Homo sapiens: one gene and its partners. The protein of the gene in region 4 purifies or fractionates together with the protein of the main gene of each other region. This does not show direct contact. Each region holds a gene or a part of one and is shown on either strand. Other genes may lie near its edges. The genes, in order: ALAD, GTPBP1, IFT172, ISOC2, FH, HBS1L and APIP.

Region 1 (2,736 bases), on a different chromosome or scaffold from region 4:
GGCCTCAGTTTACCAAAGAATAAAATGCACAGTGAAGGAAATAGGTAAGAGGCAAGTTCCTTCCCATGCTGGTGTGCAATTCTAACAAAATGAGTCCCCTTTATGGAGTGATATTACTTCATTTAATCCTCAGGACAACCACGCACCAGGTATCTTATCCCCAGTTATCCAGTTATGGGTGAGGACACTGAGGTTCAGAGAAGTGGCTTGCCCACGTTCTCACAACCAAAAATGAAGGGCTCTGCTTGCTTCACCGGGCCGTGTTCTATGCTGCAGTTCCATATCTCTTCCTCAGTGTGTGTCTGTTTAGATCACTAGTAATTCCCGGAATAAGATCCCAAGCTCTCAGGACGTCGTTCCCCAATCTAGGCAGAGTGCTTATCAGTCCCTGTGGCGCAGGTCAAAACACCCCACCCTTGCCTGCCTACCTGCTCTGCGGAAGGCAGTCATGGCCTCCAGTACGGCAGCCTTGAGATCAAATGCCCCGGCCTGGGCTCCATGCCACAGCATGGCAAACTCTCCAGAGACGTGGTACACGGCGAGAGGGAGGTCAGGGTGCTGCAGGGAAGCAGACAGGGAGACAGGCTGAAATGGAGGGTGGATGTGGCTCTGGAAGCGTCCCTTCCCCCCTGCTCAATCTGTGACCATCTTGAGCCCCGTGTCCTGGGTTACTGCGGCTGGCAGCCTGGCCCACTCTTGAACTGTTAAAGCAGGGCTGTTTGAGGCTCGTGCAAGCCCCGACATAGAAGGCCACGATGGTTCCTGGGCAGGGAAGGGGAGGAGAGGATGCATGCTTAAGGGCAAACTGCTTCCAACTCTGAGATTCCAGAGTCTGTGGAAAACTCTGTCCCAGCCCCCTGAGCCCCCTTTGCCTCGTACCTGTGCTCACCTTGTCCTTTACCTCCCGCACGATGTCCAGGTAGGGCATTCCCGGCTTCACCATGAGCATGTCAGCTCCTTCCCGTACATCCCGGTCCTAAGGGATGAGGGTATAATGTGGGTGGTGCCTAGGAGGGGGCTGAGGGTGGGGCTCAAGTCCTAGTCACTCACCACAGCTCGGAGAGCCAGGCCTCGTGCTCCAGGGGGCAGCTGGTAGCAGCGGCGGTCCCCAAAAGCTGGGCTTGACTTAGCTGCATCCCTGCAAAGCAGAGTCATCAGGGTGGGCTCCAGCTTTGGGCCAAAGGGCCAGGGATTCACAGCAGACCCCTGCCCACCCCTGCTCACCGGAAAGGGCCATAGAAACAGGAAGCAAATTTGGCACTGTAGCTCATCACCGATACCTATGGGGAGACAATGGAGGTCTTGGCTTATTCGGCCCTTGCCAGGTATCCCAGGGTGATGTGGCAGGGAGAGAAAGAACCTAGGCTGGGAAGGAGACTGCCTGTGTTCTGGTCCTGTTGGAGTGCTGGGCTTGATTTCCCTGCAGAGGCCCAGAGGTTTAAATGGTTCCCCAAAGCCTCATCCAGCACTGTCTTCAGTTCTGTGATTCTTTTTTTTTTTGAGATGGAGTCTAGCTCTGTCATCCAGGCTGAAGTGCAGTGGCATGATCTCAGCTCACTGCCTCGTGGGTTCAAGCGATTCTCCTGCCTCAGCCTCCCCAGTAGCTGGGATTACAGGCGCCTGCCACCACGCCCAGCTAATTTTTGTGTTTTTAGTAGAGATGGGGTTTCACCATGTTGGCCAGGCTGGTCTTGAACCCCTGACCTCAAGTGATCTACCTGCCTCAGCCTCCCAAAGTGCTGGGACTACAGGTGTGAGCCAACACGCCCGGCAGTTCTGTGATTCTTAGCAGACACGGGGGCAGGGCTGGTGCAGACTATCTCCTGCCAGCCCTGTGCTGCATTCCCTGCCCTTACCCTGTTGCCAAGTCCATGTGCCATCAGGGCCTCTTTGATGGCTTCCACGCGTCCATCCATCATGTCCGACGGGGCTACCACCTGACATCCTGGGGGGCAGAGGGTGGCCTTCAGAACTCTGGGGCCCTCCTAGCCACTCTGCCACCTCCTGACCCAGAGGTGCCCATCCCTGCTGGTGGTTCACTCACCTGCCTTGGCATACGCCAATGCCACCTCAGCCAGCCGCTGGCGGCTCTCCTCAGCCCGGAATGCTCCGTTTTCACTCAGGAGCCCTTCAGGACAGATGACTGGGTTTTGGGGAGCACCTTGGGCCCTGGCCTGTCCCCACCCTGTTGAGAAGTGGGCAGTAGGAGTGTGGGTGGCAGCAGGGCTGGTGGGAGGGAGGGAACTCACCGCAGTGACCATGGGAGGTGTAGGGACACAGGCAGACATCACAGGCCACCAGGAGGTTGGGGAAGGTCTTCCTCAACAGATGGATTGCCTCAATAGCTGGGGACTCCTCGGAGTCAGCTGCGGAACCCCGCTCGTCCTAGGGGCAGGGGAGGGACAAAGCAGTGTGTCTATTACATGTAGCTTTGGAAGGCAGGATGACAGCCATCACAGAGCATAGCCCTGGCCTTCTCCTTCCTTCATCATCACAGCCCCTGGATAAGGAAGCACAGAGGACTGACCCTACATGGGTGCTGACTTAAGGGCAAAGACCACGTCCATTCACCTGTGGCCCCAGGGCCAGCACAATGTGGGAGTGAGGGTGCAGTCAGTGTGGACCCTCAGTCCACCTTTGCCCAACCTCCCTTCCTTTTTCTGTTTGTATTGGAGACAGGGTCTTGCTCTGTCACCCAGGCTAGAGTGCACTGGCGCGATTTTGGCTCACTGCAGC
Region 2 (3,500 bases), on a different chromosome or scaffold from region 4:
GGTCCTTAAATGCCATGCCAAAGAGGTTAGACTTTTATTCTGAGAGTCTAGGGAGTCTTTGCAGCCTGTAGAAGAGGAGAATACATATAAGAAAAGTGAATGAGCCGGCAGGATGGAAATCTGATTAGCGTCTGGCATGGCTGAGTATGTGGCCTTTAGTAATTGGACCTCTGCAGCTTTTCTCCTCCACCTTTGTCTCGGCTTCCACAGAGTGAGGAATGTGATGCATGCTGGAGACGGGTAATGTGACTGACCGAGAGCCCTGATGGACAAGGTGACGTTGGTGATAGCCCTTGGTGTGGAACAGGACCTGAAAGAACAGGAGCAGGGGAGGTTGAATAGAATTTAGCCAGCCTTCTTAGGAACACTCCCAGCAAACCCTTCTCTAACCCTGAAGGCTTTCACAGCTCACTTTGCCGTGCATTTAGAAACTCCTCAGCCCAACCGCTCCCTCTTTGTTCATTTGTTTTACATTTTACAAACATTTGAGGAAAGGCACTGGTTGTGGGGCATCAGGAAATTGTTGCGGTATGTTCCTTGTTTTCAAGATGCTTATGTATTGTGCGGGGAGGGGAGGATGTGTATCCAAAACACTGTTGCACAAGGCAGTACATTGCAAATGTAAGGGAGACACAGACATTTGTGGGCAGAATGAGTAGGATTTTGCTAGGAGGAGGTGCGCTGTTGGGCTTTCAGGATAGGAAATCCATGAGCAAAGGTGTAGAGCTAGGACCCTGCAGAGAACCCCAGCACAAGGAAGGGGAGTGCTGTGTGTGTGATGGGGCCACTTGCACCATGACAGAGCTTACAAGAAGAAAGTGAGGAGGGAGTACGGCACAAATGGGGAGGCTGTTAAGCAGTTGGGCCTGGGGAGCCATTCATAAGCTTTGACTTGAAGTGACGGCGTCAGAGTTGTGCTTTATTTAGGACCTTAAGGGGTTGGTTGGAGGGAATAGAGACTGAATTTGTAAAGACAAAAGTTAAGAGTCTGTTGTGGTGGTTCAGGTAGAATAACAGCCTGAATCAGGCTGGTGGCTGCGGATTGGCAAAAAGGGCAGACATCAGGGAAGGAGGCAAGGTAAAATGCTAGAATCATCAGGACTGGACTGAGGAGACTGGTGGCTAGAGAGATGGTATTGTCATTGTCAGAAATAAAGAAGGAACTGGTCAGGCAGTAAGAGGAAAAGGCTCTGGTTTTGGAATCTGAAGACCTGAACTCATGGCCTCCCCCAAGCTCTGAGATCTCCCTAGGTTCTTTTTACCCCACTGTTAAAAGGGAACAGTAATGCCTACCTCATAAGATTACAGTGAGAAATAAAATGCTTTATTAACATTGTTAGTGTCTGTGCTGTTGTTTAAAAGAGGGTTGGGTTGGGTGTTGAGTTTGGATATCAGACTTCTAGGAGTTATCCAGGCAATTGGAAATTCAGTCTGGAGTTCTGGGCATAGGATGGTGTTAGAAATGAGTGTTTTTATAGTTTTCAAAATGACAGCCAAAGCCATAGAACAAGATGGCCAAGGGGAAAGTTTGGAGGAAACAGAACAGGGCCACTGACAGACTACTGGAAAAAACTGGCATTCAGGAGACAAGAGCGGGGGACGGGGTGGGGAGGCACATCAGGAGAGGTCAGGTGATGCGTGAGCAGGGTGGGAGGGAAGTGCTTCAAGAGGGAAAGGCTGAGTGGCCAGCAGTATCGAATGCTGTAGGAGTCAAGAAGAGGGCATTAGAGAGTTTAGAAGGCCACTGGTGGGCCAGGCATGATGGCTGACGCCTGTAATCCCAGCACTTTGGTGGGAGGCCAAGGCGGGCAGATCACTTGAGGTCAGGAGTTCGAGACCAGCCTGGCCAGCATGGTGAAACCCCGTCTCTACTGAAAATACAAAACTTAGCCAGGCATGATGGCGGGCGCCTGTAATCCCAGCTACCTGGGAGGCTGAGGCAGGAGAATCGCTTGAACCTGGGAGGCAGAGGTTGCTGTGAGCAAGGATTGTGCCACTGCACTCCAGCCTGGGTGACAGAGTGAGACTCCATCTCAAAAAAAAAAAAAAAAAAAAAGGCCACTGGTGGCATGTGACAACTGCGGTTTCTTCTGTAGTGGGCAGATTCCCATTGAGTAGATGGTGGGATAGTACAGTCAACACGCGTTGATGACTCTCGAGATGTTTGATGGTGAAAGGAAAAACAGGAGATGGTAGCTTTGCAGATAAGCAGGGGCAAGGGAAGGGGGGTGGTTTTCCTTTCCTTAGTTTAGGAGCTTGTTTGGAGTGGGAGGAAGAGAAGAAGAGACAAGGAGAATATTTGGTGCGGGGGAAGAGAGTCACACATGCTGAAGGGGTTAGCCAGCCAGGGAAGGAGCAGGGGTGCTCTCAGAGACAGGACAGCTGGGAAAGGCTGAGGGAGTGATTGTGGAAATTAAATCCAGCACCTCATGGAAAGCAGCTGACGGGTTGTCATATAGTAGGAGCTCAGTAACTGTTTGGTCGGTTGGTCCTGCCTTCTGTCTGATTCCCTTCCTTGTCCTGAGCTCAAACTCATTTCTCCAGCTGCTTGCTGGACATGTCACCTGAGCCACCTCAGTTAAAAATCTTATCTCTAAAATGTTTCTGAGTTCCTCCCCCATTTTCCTCCATCTTTCTGTCGTCATTATCTCTTGCCTGCATTATTAGAATTACTTCCTAACTGGACTCCCCCCTTACTGGTCTCTCACTTGCTGGTGCACACTTGGCACTGCTACTCAGGAGATCTTTCTAACCCACAGCCATCTGATCATGTTACTCCCCTGCCTCAGCCTACGGGTGTCTCAATGCCTGGTGCAGAAGGTGTGTCGCTGCTGTCCGTCTGTTGTGCTGCTTCCACCTCTCATGTAGTCTCCCGACACTCCATGTCACCCATGCTGCTCCTCAACACACTGAGCTGCTTCCTGGTCCCTGAACTTGCCATGATCTGCCACGCCACGCTTTGTTCCTCTGGCTAGGATGTCCTTCCTCCTTCTGCAGGCCCAGCACTTGTTGACCTAGCTTGGCATCAGCCCTTTGCAGAACTGTCCTCGGCTTCCCCAGGCAGTGCTTTATGTTCTCTTCACACAGTCCTAGAGTGCAGCACTTGAGCTGTATTGCAATTAATTAATTTCCTGTCTGCCTCCCCCACTGGGCTGTGAGCTCACTAGGGGCACCTGTAGTCCTAGTACCCAGCATGAGGCTTGGCATAAAACCTGGGAGAGCCTCGGTGGCTGTTGTTGAATGAAGTAGCGAATGCTCTGCTTGATGGAGAGGTCTGTGGCACTGTCATGTTTTAACTTGGTGTGTGCCCAGGTTTTCTCTCAGGTAGAGAGGACCCCTGTTCCTCTGCAGTGCTGGGGTCGGGGGGTGGTGGCCTTTGTTAGGTGGGGTTCCTGGCTGGCTGGTTGGCAGGCTGGTTGGTCAGGACTCCCTCTCCTGCTGATGTCTGGGCTCTTGTCACCAGATGGGACTGAGTATGGGCTGAGTGAAGCTGACATGGA
Region 3 (3,500 bases), on a different chromosome or scaffold from region 4:
GGAGTTTGAGACCAGCATGGGCAACACAGTGAAACCCTGTCTCTACCAAAAAAACAAAAAATAAATACAAAAATTAGTCGGGCATGGTGGCATGGGCCTGTAGTCCCAGCTACTCAGGAAGCCGAAGTGGAAAGATCACTTGAGCCCAGGAGGTTGAGCCTGCAAGTGAGCTGAAATAGCACCACTGCACTACAGCCTGGGTGACAGAACAAGACCGTGTCTCAAAAAAAAAAAAAAAAAAAGATGCTGTGGAATAGGGGATAAGGAAATTCCAGGAGCCCTCCTAGAGGAGGTTGGACTTCTAAGGCATTTGGATTGAGATACTAAGAGAGGAAGCTAGAGGAGAACTCAGGGACAGAGAAAAAGTTGGATGTGGCCACTGAGAGGATTTGTGTTTAGGAGCCTGGAGCTTACTGCTTATAAGAAGGGATGAATTAGGTGAAAGGGACCTTGAGACAAAGGGAAATAAAAACTCTTAGAGTAATGAAAAGTGAAAATTATTCCCATTTATGTAAAATATATATATTTATGTATGTAGATTCATAGAAAAAAGAGTTAATAGTTTACTCTGGAAAGGGGAAAGGAAAAAGATGGGGGATAAAAAGGAAACTTTCATGTTTTACTCTATATAATTGTGTGTTGTTTGAATCATTTACATTAAGAATTACTTGTGAGCCGTGCCTGTAATCCCAGCACTTTGGGAGGCCGAGGCGGGTGGATCACCTGAGGTCAGGAGTTGGAAACCAGCCTGACGTGAAACCCGTCTCTACTAAATACAAAAAAATTAGCTGGGCGTGGTGGCACATGCCTGTAATCCCAGCTTTCTGGGAGGCTGAGGCAGGAGAATCGCTTGAACCTGGGAGGCAGAGGTTGCAGTGAGCCAAGATCGCATGCCATTGAACTCCAGACTGGGCAACAAGAGTGAAATGCCATCTCAAAAAAAAAAAGAATTACTTGTATAGGCCGGGCACAGTGTCTCACTCCTGTAATCCCAGCACTTTGGGAGGTCAAGGCGGGTGGATGACCTGAGGTCAGGAGTTCAGGACCAGCCTGGCCAACATGGTGAAACCCCGTCTCTACTAAAAATATAAAAATTAGCCGGGCATGGTGGAACGTGCCCGGAATCCCAGCTACTCGGAAGGCTGAGGCAGGAGAATTGCTTGAACCCGGGAGGGGAGGTTGCAGTGAGGTGAGAACGCGCCACTGCACTGCAGCCCCGGCGACAGAGTGAGACTCCATCTAAAAAAAAAAAAAAAGAAGAATTATTCGTATAATACTGAAATTTGACCCTCCTTAAAAAAAGAAGCCCTATGCTCTTTGTGGGCCCAGACGGTGTTGGTTAATGTGTAGCACATCTCCTTTTCTGAGGAGCTTTACCAGGTGCATATTAAAAATTTCCAATACATGCTGGGCGTGGTGGCTCACGCCTGTGATCCCAGCACTTTGGGAGGCTGAGACGGGCTGATCACAAGGTCAGGAGTTCGAGACCAGCCTGACCAACATGGTGAAACCCCATCTCTACTAAAAACAGAAAAATTAGCCTGGTATGGTGGCACACACCTGTAATCCCAGCTACTCAGGAGGCTGAGACAGGAGAATCGCTTGAACCTGGGGAGGCGGAGGTTGCAGCGATGAGATTGTGCCACTGCACTCCAGCCTGGGCGGCAGAGTGAGACTCTGTCTCAAAAAAAAAAAAAAGAAAAAAGAAAATTCCAATATACAAGCATTTTGAGGTTTTTCTAGAGCACAAGGTCAACCCCTATGTGTATAGGGGTGTGTGTGTGTGTGTATGTGTGTGTGTGTGTGTGTGTGTGTGTGACAATTTGTGAAGAGTTCAGGATTAGGATGTGTTGGGATAGGGAAATGTTGGAAGAGATTTCTGCAGGGTATGATGGTCAGAGTGAATGTACCAGGTGTTGAGAGTGAGGAATTTCTCGGGTGGAGTCTTCGAAGAGTGATTGAAACCCTCTACTTCTGTCTTAGGGGAAGTTGGTTAACCACCCGTGTCCACCCTATGCCTTGGCATGGGCAACCAATAGCATCGTGGCTGCAGGCTGTGATCGGAAAATTGTAGCCTATGGAAAAGAAGGTCACATGCTACAAACTTTTGATTATAGCCGTGACCCTCAGGAGCGGGAGTTCACCACAGCTGTATCAAGTCCTGGGGGCCAGTCTGTTGTGCTAGGAAGTTATGACAGGTAAGTCCCCTTTCCAGTTTTATCTACTGCCTACTTTCCCTGCGAACACTCTCTGCTTTAGCCAAATTATTCTGAGCCAGAGTGCGAGACTGGAGCAGAATCAAATGTATGTATGTAATTCATGCGCTTTCCTCTTCCTGCTCCCGCTATCCATTGGTGTGCTGGCAGTTCCAAAATGTCCTGGGCTCTTGTTTTGTCTCTGTGCCGCTCCCTGCACTTCCACAGCAGAATTCATCTCTATTTTCTGTTTCCATTGCCCCCTTTGAGACCGCTTAGAGTTTCTCACATTATATTACAGTTTGTTGTTTGCAAACTACTGTTGTTTAGCCAGATAGATGGCTAAATCAGAGTCCTTGAGAAGGGGGCTTATTATTCATCTTTTCAGTGCCTAGATTAGCATCTATATGCTATATATATTTAAGATATGCTCAGATGTTTGGCGAATGAATGAATGAATGATGGAACAGCAGATAAACAGCCATGTTCCAGGTCTCATCATTTCTCTGGCATGTGTTTAACCCCAGCTTTATCAGTCCTGTCTTTCTATCCCCTTCAATCTTATGTCTCCTTGTATTCTCTTCTTTCTTCACTGACTCCTACCATTTATCTCCTTGTTCCATATTTTTTTGCTCCTAGTAGCTTATTTTTCTCACCTGCCCTGGTCTTTTTGTTTTCTCTGCTCCCCTCACTCTTATTCTGTTTTAGTTTTGCCTTGATTTTCCCAGCTTATTTCCTGTGCACCTTTATATCCTCTTCTGCTAGACTGCCTAGCTTGTCTGTTCTTTTTATTTCCTTTCTTTTCTGATATAGCAAGACTAATTTCCTTTGGTTATCAGCCCATTTGCACTCTTTAGCTCAGCCTCAATCTCTTCTAAAAGCCACATACTTTATTTCAGGCTTCGGGTGTTCAACTGGATCCCTCGAAGAAGCATCTGGGAAGAGGCAAAGCCCAAGGAGATTACCAATTTATACACCATCACTGCCTTGGCCTGGAAGCGGGATGGCTCACGGCTCTGTGTGGTGTGTTACTAGTAATCCCTTTCTGGATTGGTGACTTTCACCAAACTAGAAAAAAATCCTGCCTTATCCTAAAGCACTGTTCCCTGACACTATAGAATCTCCTCTTTCCTTTTGACCCTGACCTAAAATTCTGGCATTAAAGGCAGGAAAGAGAAATTCATACTTTACCCTAGGTCACAAAAGGGACAAAAAATTGTGTGTAGGCAGGGCTAGTTTTTCCCTTTTATCCCATTAATATGTTGTGCCCTTGAGTCCAATGATTGTAGCCTCTTTCCTTTTGGT
Region 4 (3,079 bases):
ATGTGGGTCCCGGAACTCCTGCGTCTGGGGGAGCCGGGACTACAATGCTTTCAGCCCTTCCTTCCATCCGTCCATCCATCCTTCCATCCATCCATCCACCCATCCACATGGCTGTGTCTTCCTTCCTCCCGTCTCCATGTCCCCTTGCCTCAGTTTCCCTTCCGCACCTGGGTGCGGTCTCGCTCACCTCGCTTTCCGGATGCGGGACCCTTGGGGAGCCGGGGGTGGCGGCGTGGGGGGCGGCCGGAGGCGGCGGCGGAGCGCGTGTCTGCCGGCAGCTGGGCTGGGCGTGCGCGCGCCGGCTGGGGGCGACCCCGGCCGCAGTTCTCCTCCGAGCAGATGCGCCGCGTCCGTGCAGATGTGTCAGCCGCCAGCCCTCGCCTTTGCCTCGCGCCGAGAAGAGGCACCTCCCCCCCCCCACCTGCTGGGGACCCCGCTTTCTCCCTCCTGCAGCCCCCAGTCGCCCCCGGGATCCCCCCCAACCCAAGAATGGTTTGGTCCACAGCCACATATATGTTTATTCTGCGAGTCCGTGTCCCACAGTCTGAGACTCTTCTTCCCCTCCCCTTCCCGCCCCGTGAAGTGGCCCGGGGCCGAGCCCCGCCTCCATCTTGGCTCAGCCAATTCCCACCCAGTTTCCAGGAGTCTCATTTGCATTTCCGGGAGCAGCTGTCCAATGGGAAGGCAGCACCCTGCCCCCCCCACAAGGGGGCGGCACTCCTGGTGGATCGCACCACTCTTGGGATCCAGGGATGGGGGGAACGGGCTTCCACTGAGGTCCGGGTGACAGGAGGGTGGTCTTCCCTCAAGGCAGGGTTGGAGTTCAGTGGAGGAGGGAGTTCTGGCCTTGGAAGAGGCCCAGCAGTCCGCTGTCTGGGGCGGGCTCCTTGATGAGTTTCTGGATCTGTAAGGGCAGGGGGCGATGGGTCAGGAAGCGTCTAGGGTCCCGATCTCCATGGATGACAAATCTGAGGGACACCTCTCCGTCTTCATCTCTCGGACCTTCTGGCTAGCAGCTGCCCAAGACAACACTCCCTCTTCTCAAGACTTTTCCTGGGGCCTCCCTTTCATTACACGTGACTGGTTGAGCTCCTCACTGCCTGCCATCTTGGTGTGCTTTGCGGGCTTGGACCACTAAGGGTGGACAGCTCTGTGCTGGGGCTTCCTGTCTACACCTTCCTCTTCTTAAGTAACCTCATTTCTCCCATCCCTCTTCTGGGCCCTCAGCTCACAAATCCAGCCTGGACTTTGCCCCTGAACTCGACTCATCTATCTAACTGCCTCTTAGATAGACATGAGCAACCAACCGCATTTCATCCATCAGCAAGTCCCAGCAAGTTTATCTCCAGAAAATAAAATAAATAAATAAATAAATAAACAACAACAACAACAAAAAAGCCTGCATCCCCCCTGCCTCATCACCGCTTGCCTGGGCGCCCAAATTAACCTCCTTACTGACAGGTCTCCCTCCTCCCCTCTATGCCACACTCCCTAATCCACTGGTCACACAGGGCCAGAAAGAACTTTGTAAACTGCCGATCTGATATGGCCAGCTCCCCTGCATCAAACCCTGATGGCTGCCCGTGGCTGAAATCTCAAACCTCTGGGCTCTGACTCCTGCGTGAAGACAGGCTGCTGGCTCCTCCCGCGTGGTGCTCACCCTGGCCTGCTACAGCTCCTCAAAGAAAGCTCAGTCCCCCTCCCCTGGGAACACTGTGAGTGCCTGATGCCCCCTTCCCCGGCAGCTCAGAATTCAGGGCCACCTCTGCCACTCTTGCTCATCCCTCTGCAACTCCTGCCCCAGCTGGGGGTCACAATGTGTCACTGAACATGGATTGCTGCAGACTCCAGGGCTCACCACAGTGGCTGGCACAGAGTGGGTGCTCGGTGAATGTCCCACAGAGCTGAACTAGAAGGAAGGTAAGGAGCAGACCTGGGAGGGCCTGGGAATGTCAAGGTCTGGGGCCTCTCCAGCATCCTGAGGGCCAATGGCTTGAAGCAGGGGGGCCCAGTACCTGGCTGACCCCGGTAGCAGGGTGGCCAGTGGAGTCTGAGAAACTGGAGGAGGGGCACCCGGGCCGGAAGGGGCAGAGGCGGAGGAGATGGAGAGTTGGAGATGGGTGTGGACGGGTCAAGGGGCTTCTATCTAGAGGGTCTCTGCTGACCTGTTCTTCCCCAGTGTCCGCCTGGTCACTCCCTCCTTCAGTTCATTCTAAAGTCACCTGCTCCAGGATGCCCCCCAGACCCTCCAATACAAACCCCCTCCTCTGTGCCCTGACCCTCTGGATTGCCTCCCCCATTTTATTGTTCTCTGTGGCCCTTATGGTCCATCTGTGGGCTCCTTTCATGGATTTATGGCAGTGACAGTGACCAGCAGCCTCCCCTCCAAGAACCTGGCTCCCCCTGGAGGCGGCAGCCTGCTGGTGCCGAGATGTATTCTCAGAGCCCAAAGACAAGACCTTTGACAGATGCAGGGGAGGTGGGGGCGGCCAGGCGGGCATTACCTCCTTGAACTGGGGGTGGACGGCATCGCCCACAAGCTGCAGAATGAGCCCTTCGCTGGTGGAGAGGAAGGCACCACTCTGTCTCATGCGGGCCAGAGCCACCAGCCGGTCCACCTGGCTGTGAGTGGGAGGGAGGGAGGGAAGGTTGGTGTGGACGCCGCAGTCTGGACACCCAGACACGCAGGCACCCTGGTGGGAATGCCGCCTGTGGCCCTTCCTGGGAGCCCCTGATGGCCCCCACGTGCACCCACCCAGGCAGGGGCCCTCTCACCTGCGTGAGGAGCAGGCGTCCACCACCACATGGACCTGCAGCCCCCGGTCTAGGAGGTCCAGGGTCGTGTTCTGTGGGTAGAGAGAGGTCAGGGCCAACCCCGGATAAGAACGGGGGTCCTGGGTAAGGAATTGGGGATGGTGAGTCAGAATTAGGGGCCCAGAATGGGGAGGAGGGAGGCTCGGATCAGAGGAAGGGGCCCCCAGGTCAGGAGGGGATCCAAGATAGGATGGGGCCCACAGGTGAGGAGAGAGGGCCCAGGTCAGGATGGGGGTCCTGCAGGGAAGTGGAGGTTTCTGGTCAG
Region 5 (3,500 bases), on a different chromosome or scaffold from region 4:
CACCCAGGCTGGAGTGCAGTAGAGTGAGCATAGCTCACTGCAGCCTGGAAATGCTGAGCTCCAGGGATCCTCATGCCTTAGCTTCCTGAGCAAGTGGGACCATAGGCATGCACCGCCATGCCTGGCTAACTTTAAAAATGTTTTCAGAGACAGGGTATTGCTCTGTGTTGCCCAGGCTGGTCTTAAACTCCTGGCCTCAATTGATCCTCCTGCCTCAGCCTCTGAAAGTGCTGAGGTTATAGGCATGAGCCACTGCACCCAGCTTGATATTATGTTTTAAAAGTACAGGGTCAACAGTTGAGGAAAGAGCACTGAGTATATACTACCTGGCTAGGTCTCAGGTTTGCCAGTTGCTAAATATTTTGGCATTTATACAGTCTCTTTGAGGGCTTGGCTTTCCTATTTTTAAAGTGGTAATCTACCTCACAGAATTTTTCTAAACTTAATAAAGAGCTGTTTATGAAAGACTGTATGCACTGTATAATTGTAAGATATTCAATTATAAGATTTTATAAGAATATATAATTCAATAATTGATGTAATTTGATATAATTATAAGATATTCAACTACATTGAAGATACTACTGCTGTCTTCAAGTGCAGTTGTTAACTATACTTCTCTGTATTTTGCTGTCATTTATTAGCAGGCAGATATAATACGTAATACATAATATAATACATAATATATTATATAATACATAATATAATATAATACGTAATACATATATAATACATAATACATTCAGTATACTTAATGTGTATAATACAGTTCTGAGTATGTGTTAGAAACCAGGATGCTGCTTATTTGATTCTATAATAACTCACCTATGACATGCCACACATACATGTAACTGAGCTGGGTTTTGAGTAGTTAGTTGGAGAGTTTTTTAATTGAGAAGTTTAATTCAGAAGTTTGTTTTTGTTGCCTCTGATTTAACATTTTATATTTCTTTTGAAAAATTTCCAACAGAGCTCAAATGATACTTTTCCCACAGCAATGCACATTGCTGCTGCAATAGAAGTTCATGAAGTACTGTTACCAGGACTACAGAAGTTACATGATGCTCTTGATGCAAAATCCAAAGAGTTTGCACAGATCATCAAGATTGGACGTACTCATACTCAGGATGCTGTTCCACTTACTCTTGGGCAGGTATAGGAGTTTGACTAATTTGATTCAATTTAGAGCTTGGTACAAATGGCCAATGTGTCATCCTTGAAATCTGACTAGCTTAAAAGGCCAAATTTGTAACCGGAAACTTCAGTGACAGAGGTTGTTCTGTTCAACCAATCAGTAATTTTCATTGACATCCACTTAGAAGAAAAGCAGAGTATACTGGCTATAAGTCAGATTCAGTCAGACTGCTCGGGTTCAAATCTTAGCTTTGCTGTGTACAAGCTATGGGACCATAGGAAAGTCATTTAGCCTTTCTGTGCCTCAGTTTTCTGAGCTACAAAATGAGGAAAATAATTTCCCTTTCATAGGATAGTTGTGAAGCTCTAGTAAGTTGATTTATGTAGAGTGCTTAGAAGCATGCCTGGCACACAGTAAGTACCCATTCATGTTAGCTACCATCATCACCACCGTCATCGCTGTCATCTCCATCAGTATCATCATGGTTTTTCTTTTGTCTTTCTTACCTAAATTAGTAGGTTATTTAAAATTTAATCTCAAAGTGATTAAATAAGGTAGATCTTTTTAAGATGGATCTGGCCGCATGTGAAGGAGATACTACTCTCTTCTCCAAGATATTAGAAAGTATTTTCATGTTTCTTTTTCAATGCCTTAAGGAATATCTAATAGTATACATTGTGAAGGAAATGTAAGGAAATACAGGGAATGACTTTTGTCTTAGTAAACTCACACTCCAATTGGGGTAGCTTAATTTCCTTATGGAAGGAATGAGGAAAACTTGAAATGAGTAATTGAAAAACAAATGATGGGACTAAATTGAACTCACTGGATTGAGTTGCTTCTTAAGGCTGTGTCTCATTTCTCTTTGCATCATTAGTACTTAGGACCATGCATAATTTCTAAGGAGGAACAGTATGTATGTTTTGAAACTTTTGAATATTTCTCAAGTTTCTAATTTTAACCTTTTTTTGGTGTTGAAAACTACAATACTAAATACCATTTGGGCCATGACTCAGCCTCCTGTGTAAAATCATCATTCTTCCTGTTAAGACAGAAAATTACATTTTTCTGTTTGACTTTATCAGAAGCATTTATACTTGCTTTTATTGGGATTGTCTTTTGAGTTCGTGCATTGTTCCCTGTCAAAGTGTATTTTATAAGTGAATCTATCTAGTGTGTTTGTGTGTGTGTGTATACATACAGTCATGTGTTGCTTAGCAATGGGGGTATGTTCTGAAAAATGCATCCTTAGGCAATTTCATAGTTATGTGAACATCACAGAGTATACTCACACAAACCTAGATGGTATAGCCTTCTATACACCTAGGCTATATGGCATAGCCTTTTCCTCCTAGGCTACAAATCTGTGCAGCATGTTACTGCATTGGATACAATAGGCAATCGTAACACAATGGTAAGTATTTGTGTATCTAAACATATCTAAATGTAGAAAAGGTACAGTAAAAATACGGTTTTATAATCTTAGGGTCCCACTGTTTATGTGATCTTTCGTTGGCTGAAACATCATTATGTGGTGCGTGACTGTATATGAGTGATGTTATATCAGATGCATCAGGTCTACCTATAATGAGTTATATCTTTTGAAATGTTTTCTTTAGAACAGTATGGCATCCTGTCACTTATGGTTTTTTAGTGTTTTCAGGCAGGAAAAAAGGATAGATTTAGTGTAACCATGTATCTTGGTTTGTCCAGTTAACTCCCAGTGTATGCCTTTTGTTTCTGCATGACTATTAATAGAGCCCTTTCTGTGTTCAAAACATAAATTCTGTGGTTGCTTTAATTAAGGCATGTCAAAATTTGGAACCAGTGTTGACATTGGCACATTGATGCTATGATCTGACTCTACCGTTACCTCCTATTCTTTTTGGAAGGTCCTTCAATGCAAACTGTTACCTTCCTGTGCTATTCAGTGAGTCATTAGCTTCCCAAGTCTCTGTAGAATGTCTTCATATTTCCTGGTAGGTTTATACACTGAAATTGTATGGAGAATATTTCTATGTTTGCATTTTTTTGGGGGAGATGAGTTACTATTTTTTCTTACACCAAAGTTGTCTGAGGCATCCCAAAAAATAAGAAATCACTTCAGTTTCTTTAGTAGACTGCAAGTAAACCAATAATTTAGTGTAGTAAAGTTGTTCTTTTTAAAGTGTATTTCCTGTGCTGTTTTTCTTTGCTTCCTATTAAAAGACTAGATTATAATAAATAGGCTGCATGTTATCAGTGGCATTGTCGTACCTTATGGTTCTATAAACCCTCATCCTTCCCTATACTTTGCTCATCATAAGATTTGAAGTAGTATAAATAAAACTTGATTAGCTTGTAATTTAGTATTCTGAAAGGTATT
Region 6 (3,500 bases), on a different chromosome or scaffold from region 4:
ACTAAGTGAGGCATGAAATCAGATGTTTCCCTCAACAAGTTTCAGTCAGGAAATACTGACAGGGAAGAGGAAGTTTTCAATGCACAGGCTTCTCCTCTGCCTGCCAGGAGCTATTTTTTCTGTGGTGGGGTCGAGGGTGGTCCTATACGACCACACACACCCAACACATAACTCCAACTCAAAAACCCATACTGTGGCCACTATTTTGGAAGTAGTAATGGTTGGATTTGCAAAGGGTGGGTGGGGGGAAGAGTAAGAAAACTCCCCCAGGAGAAGTATTGGGTCGCTGCAAAAGTAACCGCAGGTCTTTCCATTACTTTCAAAGGGTGGGTGGGTGAGGTGGGGAGCGGTCCAAACCTCTGAAGTTGTACTGAGAGCCCCAAAAGCAACAAATACAACAAATAAAGGAGTGAGAGAAAGTAATGATGAGAAAATGGTAAATACAAAATGCTATTCTCTAAAATTTTAAATCACAAACTTTGATGGAAGTGCCTTCTGAAAAAACAGACACCTATAATTTTTAAAATTTAAGGCATTTTGACAAACATAAAAGTGCAAAGAATTCAAAACCTAACACCTGAAACTTCCTACAATGGTTTCCTAAACATCTTAAAATAAAAATCACATGAGGCATTCATTAAAAATACAGATTTCTAGGCTTCTTCCCCGGGAGATTATGACTCAGTGGTGCTGGAATGAAGCAGGAAATTTGTATTCTTAAGAATTATTCTGGCCAGGCACAGTGGCTCATGCCTGTAATCCCAGCACTTTGGGAGGTCCAGGCAGGTGGATCACCTGAGGTCAGGAGTTCAAGACCAGCCTGGCCAACATGGCAAAACCCCATCTCTACTAAAAATACAAAATTAGCTAGGCGTGGTGGCGGGCGCCTGCAATCCCAGCTACTTGAGAGGCTGAGGCGTGAGAACTGCTTGAACCTGGGAGCCAAGTGGAGGTTGAGGTGAGCCGAGATCGTGCCACTGCACTCCAGCCTAGGCTACAGAATGAGACTCCGTCTCAAAAAAAAAAAAATGATTCCCAGCAGATTCATATCACAAGGTAAGATTAAGAAACACTGGTGAACTACAAGTCTCCCCTTTATTCTGGCCCACCTATACGCCACTTTGTGGACCATGATCAGTTATCTGCACAAAATACTAGCTCCCTTACTCAAAAAACTCCAATAAGTTGACACTAAAAACACAAAATTAGAAACTGTCTTTCACAATTTCATTCCTATTTTCTTTCCTAGCCCTCTTTCCTCCTGCCACTTGCATTAATCCTGGTAGTCTGATGAAACAAGCCTCACTCAGAGGCCATTGCTTAAGCAACGTTGTTTCCTCTAGCTGGGATGCCATTCTTACTCCCAAATTTCCTAGCTTCAATCCCACCTCCTTCTAGAAGCCTTCCCAGACTCCTTCAGTCAGGGTTATTTTCTTTACCCACAGTACTGTTGTAGCAAGTTATTTGAACAAGACTTTAAACAAGCTTCCTTATACCAAACTAATTTATAAATGTATTAGAATAGTGTTTTTCTTACAAAAAAAAAAAAGAATATACAATAAAGGTGTGAAATTAGAATGGAGCAAACAAAGATTACTTCTAATCATATTAGCTGAAACAAAATACATCACCATTCAAATAAAGTTTTATATGCAAACTCCTTTTGCTACCCCCTACTCTTTGACATAGGTTCAATACTCAGTATCAATCTTTCTAAAAGAAAGAAAAGTTAACGTTTAAAAATCACCATCCTAGGCTGGGCATGGTGGCTCACACCTATAATCCTGGCACTTTGGAAGGCCGACACAGGAGGATCACTGGAGCTCAGGAATTTGAGACAAGCCTGGGCAGCATAGTGAGACCAGGAAAATTGAGCTTAATAGAATTCAAAAAAATATACACGTGCTGATGAATTTTAGAAAGAAATTCCAATTAATTGATAAAGTCTTTCAATTATCAGACTTCATTACACCATGAATACAATCAGCTTTTCAATGACATTAGCTGCTTAAGAATAGAAAATATTCTTCTAAAACCATTCATTTTTTATTGAAAATTACTTGGAAAATATACCACTATAGAGGAAAGTAAGTTTCTTATCTGATGTTACTGCTATTTTAAAATGTTTTGAAAAATTTAAAAATCCAAAGTCGTATGCTTTTGTTAAAAATCAGTTTGTCACAGAAGAAACCAAAAACATTTAACTATCTCCTGCTTTGATAAGATCAGTTGGCTTCTTGGTGTGTTTGAAAAGTAACTCTCAGAGTCAGACTGTCCTGAATACAAACCACAGGTAAGAGCCACATCAAAAGCTATGAGAGACACATGGATAAACTCCGTCTCTGTCCTCAAGGAAGCTAGGCCATAAATGCAAGTCTCAGAGAAACACCCTTTGAAGGTCTGACTTTGTACTATTACCTTATTATTCAAGATAACATAACATTTATCCAGAGAAGCCTAGATAAATGACTGGGTTAACCTGCAATATTAAGGTGTCTTTCAGTAATCCCCCCTCTGAAAGATTCCACGCTTATACAAAGCCATATTCAACCAACTTCCAAGTCCTGCAGACCTCAACTCCTGTAAATTTTCTCTTGAATGTATTTCCAAATCCAATGCTACCAACTCTTGCCCTAAACAAATGGTTCTCAATGCATACCACGAGCATACCCCAGTGGGCTTGTTAAAACATCTGCTATGCCTCACTCCTAGTTTCTGACTCTTGGGTGGAGTCCCCAACATTGCATTTCTAACAAACTCTCAAGCGATGCTGATGGTTCACTTTGAGAACACTGTCCTAAAATAGCCTCATCTCCTCTAGATAAATACATATAACAGTCTCCTAACGAGTCTACTTACATCCACCCATATACCACCTTTAATCCATTAACTATGTATTAGAGATTTTTTTAACTCAAATCTAATATAACCATATCATCTTCTCAGTTCTATATGCCATGCTCTCTAATGTGCTTAGAATGTGAGTGATGAGGATAGCACTACCAGACATCACTTTGTCACCTCTAATATTTAAGTTACCTAGTCAACTGTGATGCTGAATTATAGGAGCCCCAAAGGGCAAATGCCTAGGAGGTTCCTAGAAAAATGTGAAATTGTTTTATTCCTAAGTCACTACAAAATGTCTTCTCTTTTGAACCCCTGAATAAGGAGCTATAAAGGAATGCTGCTTATTAAGCCACCTCTCAGCTTCTAACCTACCATCCTTTACTCAGCTTTGTGATGCTGGATTGAAGTCACTGCAAAGCACATTTCTTCTTTGATACCCGGCTCCCTTTTAGGATCATCCAATAAGGAGATATGAAAGGGACACCGGAAAGCCAGAGAAGGCAGGCACATGCTCCTTTCCTTTTGCTTCTTGTTCCAGTATCACCCCAGCAATACTCACTTCACCTTCCAGAAGCAGTTTCTTCCAGTAACTGCAATTAATATCCGTTTTCAGTTTTTCCAAAACTCCCAGAACCAGCTTCAATTTGCCTCTT
Region 7 (3,500 bases), on a different chromosome or scaffold from region 4:
GGAGATTTAACTGAAAGAGCAGACTGGGGAGGGCATGCACATGACAATCCCATCTTAGAAAAACCATGAATGGGAAATTCTATAGCCAGAGGTCTAGTCTGGATTACGGGCTTCCCTCTCCTTGAAAGATCAGTACTTACTATTTCTATTATGATGCAACAAGGGTGGAAGGCAACTGTAGGTACCATAGAGGCACGACAGCAATCTACAGACTCTTTCACCACAGTAGCAGCACAGAATAGACGGGGCTTAGACGTCCTCACAGCTGAAGTAGGAGGTACCTGTGCACTTATAAATGAAACATGCTGCTTCTGGATTAACACCTCTAGTAAAGCAGAGGAAAATCTACAGCTACCTAAAGATCAAATCAAAATCATTAAGAGGCTACAAGAACACGCAGGCTTCAGCCCCGGGTGGCTACAATTCCTCTTTAATGAATTCTAGTCTTCTTTATGGAATTGGTTAGCTCCTTTATTAAGTCCACTCCTACTTATATGTCTTGTATTAATATTTGGACCTTGCATACTCAATACTATAACTCAAATCATTTCCTCTTGCCTAGAAGCAATCAATCCAAATGGTGCTGCAAACCGAACCACACGTGGACGTGCCATTCTTCCGAGGACCCTTAGATCAACCCCAGGAGGAGCCCTAGCTGTTGTTCCCCACTTGATGTCCCTTTTCGGCAGGAAGTAGCCAGAAAGAGTTCTTGCCCAAAACCCCCTAACAGCAGTTAGGGTGACATCTCCTCAGGAAGGGAATATTACAGGAGTTATTAAGGAAAAACTATGTTGGTATTTCTTATATCCGTCCTTAAGAAATCTAGCCCAAATTACCTATGCCTGTATAATTTGCTACTTCCTTATTTAGGGATATAAGTGATATTTTAACTACATTTTAAAGTACAGCTAATGGGAAGACTCCTGCAGTCTTCCAACCCTTAAAACCATCAATTTGCACAGCAAATAGCACACATTACAGAAAATGGTCTTTTATTACAGGTCTCCCCTTTCTCTTTTGTCTTTTCCAGTGCTGCGATATTACAGCAATTAGCCAGCTTCAAGCTAAAGCAATAACAATGACAAGGCAGCTGCTGTTAATACATTTTCAATCCTTGAGACCCATAAAATTAAAATTTCAAAGAGATTATCACTTAGCAGGCACCAACAGAGATATACTTGGTGAAAATGAAGTCATTTAAACTGTCCAGAAGAAAGTAACTACCAGAACATATATTTTAACAAGAATTGACAAGAAGGAAAGGTTCAATTGGTATCTAGTTCTCTCCTGAATGTCAATATTACTTTCCTATTATTGTTAGATCTGGTTTTCAGTTATAATAATAATTTTGAAATGTGTATCTAAAGATTGATTACAATCAACTATTTATAGTAGAGGTTCTACAGTGAGGAGGAAACACATTTAACAGCATTTTGTATATATCAAAATCATTAATGTCTAACAAGTTTTGATTTGGTATTAATTTTTCCAATTTTTCAATCTAGTTATTTTAAGGAAATCAGCCTGGCTTGTCTCCGAGATACTACTCACAGCCAACAATGGCTCTAATCCCCTCCCCCATCTTTTCTTTCAACTTAAGCAAATATAGGCATATATTCCTCAGATACAGGTTTTCCTGGAAGACTCTCATACAAGTATAAAATAACATGCATGAGATTAGTAACTCATCAATAAATGGGGAAACTAGTAAGATGTTACAACTGATTCAAAAGGAGAATTCAAAACATACATAATATAAGTAACGAGGAATCCTGACTTAGCAAAACTGGATACTGTCCACAGGTTAACAATAAAATGAATCTCCATTGAACACAACTTGCATTTCCATGAACAACAATCACCTGCGTTAACTGCCAGGATTCCACAACTGAGAGTTGTAAAATAGCATAATAATAACTCCAAGATACCCAGTAAATACTCTTTTTGTTTGTTTCAAAGTCTTTCACTTATTTTCCTGACACTGGGCTCAGGAAGGGACTGAATGCAGGCACAGTAAAGATGAGTCATACTTTCTCTCTGTCCTTGGTCTTCGTTTCATTCTGCACACTTGTTGCACTTGTCTCTCTATGCATCTTGGTTTTCTTTACTTGAATGCCCCAGCTCTCTCTTCTACCTTCACCACACTTAAAAACCCTCCTCCTCCTCATCAGTCAAGTGTTGACTAGAAATCAGAAGACATGGAGCCTGTTTTTAGCTTGGACCCCACTAGCTGTGTGCCCTAAGGCAAGTCAGTGATACTTTCTGGGCATCAGTCTCCTTCTATTAATAATCTGGATCAGTGATCTCCAGACTTCTGAATTAACACCAGTAGTCTGTTCTATGTTGGTATTTCTTATATCTGTCTTAATGAAGGACGGTGGGAGTATATGCTGGGTAGGTGAAGAGGAGAAAGGGCATTTCAGTCAGAAAGAATGCTTAGTAGCTGGAAGTGGTTATAAATTAGGTTCTGCAGGATGGAGGTAAAAGGGAGGCTGAGTCTAAAGGGTCTTCTATGCTATGCACAGGGCTTTGACCTATATTTCATGGATGATTGAAAACCACCAAAGAGTTTGAAACGTAAGATATGTGATAAGAGTCTGTTTTGGAAACATTTGCACAGTGTCAGTAAACGAAAGAGGCTGAAAGGCAGTGGTCAAGAAAGCAAAAGCCCAGAAGAGCAGGGAGGCTGCTGAAAGAGTTTAAAAAGGAAGCTGGAAGGAAGGGACTGTGAAGATGCATTTGGAAGATGAAGGACTTGGGGTGAGAAAACTGAAGGAGACAAACGAAGGCTTCAAAGACTCCCAAGTGTGTGGTCAGCTGAGTAGCTGAGTGGATGATATCGTTCCCTGGGATGTGGGTCAGAAACATTACCATGTGCTGAACACTCTTCTAGGCCCTGGGAATTCAGCTATAAACTGGACCTGAATTCCCAGGGCCTGACCTAAAAGAATTCACACTCTGGGGAGGAGTTTTTAAAAAGTAAACAGAATACATAAATAAACTGTAAAAAGTGCCAAGCAGGAAAGAAACATGGGACTTGGAGAAAAACGGCAGGGATCAACTTTGATTAACGCAGTCAAGGAAGGCCTCTCTGAGCAGGTGGCATTTAATCTAGGACCTAAAAGACATGAACTAAGCCAGTGTGTGATGAATGAGTACGTGTGTGTGTGCAAGGTTTTGTGTTGAGAGAGGCAAGTACTCCAGGCAGAGGAAACAGCAGGTGTGAAGGCTCTGAAGTGAGCAAGTACTTCACAGGCGGAAGATCAGTTGGCTAGAGCAGAGTGAGGAAGTGCTGAGGGTGGCGGAAGATAAATTTGTAGGGGCAAGATGTGGAAGGGCTTGAAAGCTGATGACAACAGTCTTACCAGAAAGGAAATGATTCCTAATAGGAGACACGGGGAGAAGGAGAGAAATAATTATAGAAGGTGAGAGGGCTTGGAGATCCTGAGCTCTAGTGGAGGAACTGGGCTTCTTGCCTTTCATGAAATGAGAGAAGCTGG

What was found.
Region 1: the proteins of ISOC2 (region 4) and ALAD purify together in Homo sapiens (affinity purification with mass spectrometry; 2 studies listed by BioGRID and IntAct, with this or other methods). This does not show direct contact.
Region 2: the proteins of ISOC2 (region 4) and GTPBP1 purify together in Homo sapiens (affinity purification with mass spectrometry; 2 studies listed by BioGRID and IntAct, with this or other methods). This does not show direct contact.
Region 3: the proteins of ISOC2 (region 4) and IFT172 purify together in Homo sapiens (affinity purification with mass spectrometry; one large-scale study listed by BioGRID and IntAct). This does not show direct contact.
Region 5: the proteins of ISOC2 (region 4) and FH fractionate together in Homo sapiens (co-fractionation; one large-scale study listed by BioGRID). This does not show direct contact.
Region 6: the proteins of ISOC2 (region 4) and HBS1L purify together in Homo sapiens (affinity purification with mass spectrometry; 2 studies listed by BioGRID and IntAct, with this or other methods). This does not show direct contact.
Region 7: the proteins of ISOC2 (region 4) and APIP purify together in Homo sapiens (affinity purification with mass spectrometry; 2 studies listed by BioGRID and IntAct, with this or other methods). This does not show direct contact.

Annotation. Positions count from the first base shown.
Region 1 is NC_000009.12:113,388,549-113,391,284, forward strand, and holds part of ALAD (delta-aminolevulinic acid dehydratase), read right to left. Parts: intron 2,386-2,736; coding exon 2,250-2,385; intron 2,129-2,249; coding exon 2,045-2,128; intron 1,946-2,044; coding exon 1,857-1,945; intron 1,281-1,856; coding exon 1,225-1,280; intron 1,139-1,224; coding exon 1,051-1,138; intron 977-1,050; coding exon 890-976; intron 559-889; coding exon 429-558; intron 1-428.
Region 2 is NC_000022.11:38,712,444-38,715,943, forward strand, and holds part of GTPBP1 (GTP-binding protein 1), read left to right. Parts: intron 1-3,463; coding exon 3,464-3,500. UniProt on the Homo sapiens protein: Promotes degradation of target mRNA species. Plays a role in the regulation of circadian mRNA stability. Binds GTP and has GTPase activity.
Region 3 is NC_000002.12:27,479,744-27,483,243, reverse strand, and holds part of IFT172 (intraflagellar transport protein 172 homolog), read left to right. Parts: intron 1-1,983; coding exon 1,984-2,198; intron 2,199-3,094; coding exon 3,095-3,218; intron 3,219-3,500. UniProt on the Homo sapiens protein: Required for the maintenance and formation of cilia. Plays an indirect role in hedgehog (Hh) signaling, cilia being required for all activity of the hedgehog pathway.
Region 4 is NC_000019.10:55,452,485-55,455,563, forward strand, and holds the end of ISOC2 (isochorismatase domain-containing protein 2), read right to left. Parts: intron 2,895-3,079; coding exon of another isoform or gene 2,847-2,894; coding exon 2,776-2,846; intron 2,623-2,775; coding exon 2,505-2,622; intron 905-2,504; coding exon 824-904; 3' UTR 501-823; downstream 1-500.
Region 5 is NC_000001.11:241,506,256-241,509,755, reverse strand, and holds part of FH (fumarate hydratase, mitochondrial), read left to right. Parts: intron 1-970; coding exon 971-1,153; intron 1,154-3,500. UniProt on the Homo sapiens protein: Catalyzes the reversible stereospecific interconversion of fumarate to L-malate. Experiments in other species have demonstrated that specific isoforms of this protein act in defined pathways and favor one direction over the other.
Region 6 is NC_000006.12:135,044,823-135,048,322, forward strand, and holds part of HBS1L (HBS1-like protein), read right to left. Parts: intron 1-3,500. UniProt on the Homo sapiens protein: GTPase component of the Pelota-HBS1L complex, a complex that recognizes stalled ribosomes and triggers the No-Go Decay (NGD) pathway.
Region 7 is NC_000011.10:34,906,380-34,909,879, forward strand, and holds part of APIP (methylthioribulose-1-phosphate dehydratase), read right to left. Parts: intron 1-3,500. UniProt on the Homo sapiens protein: Catalyzes the dehydration of methylthioribulose-1-phosphate (MTRu-1-P) into 2,3-diketo-5-methylthiopentyl-1-phosphate (DK-MTP-1-P).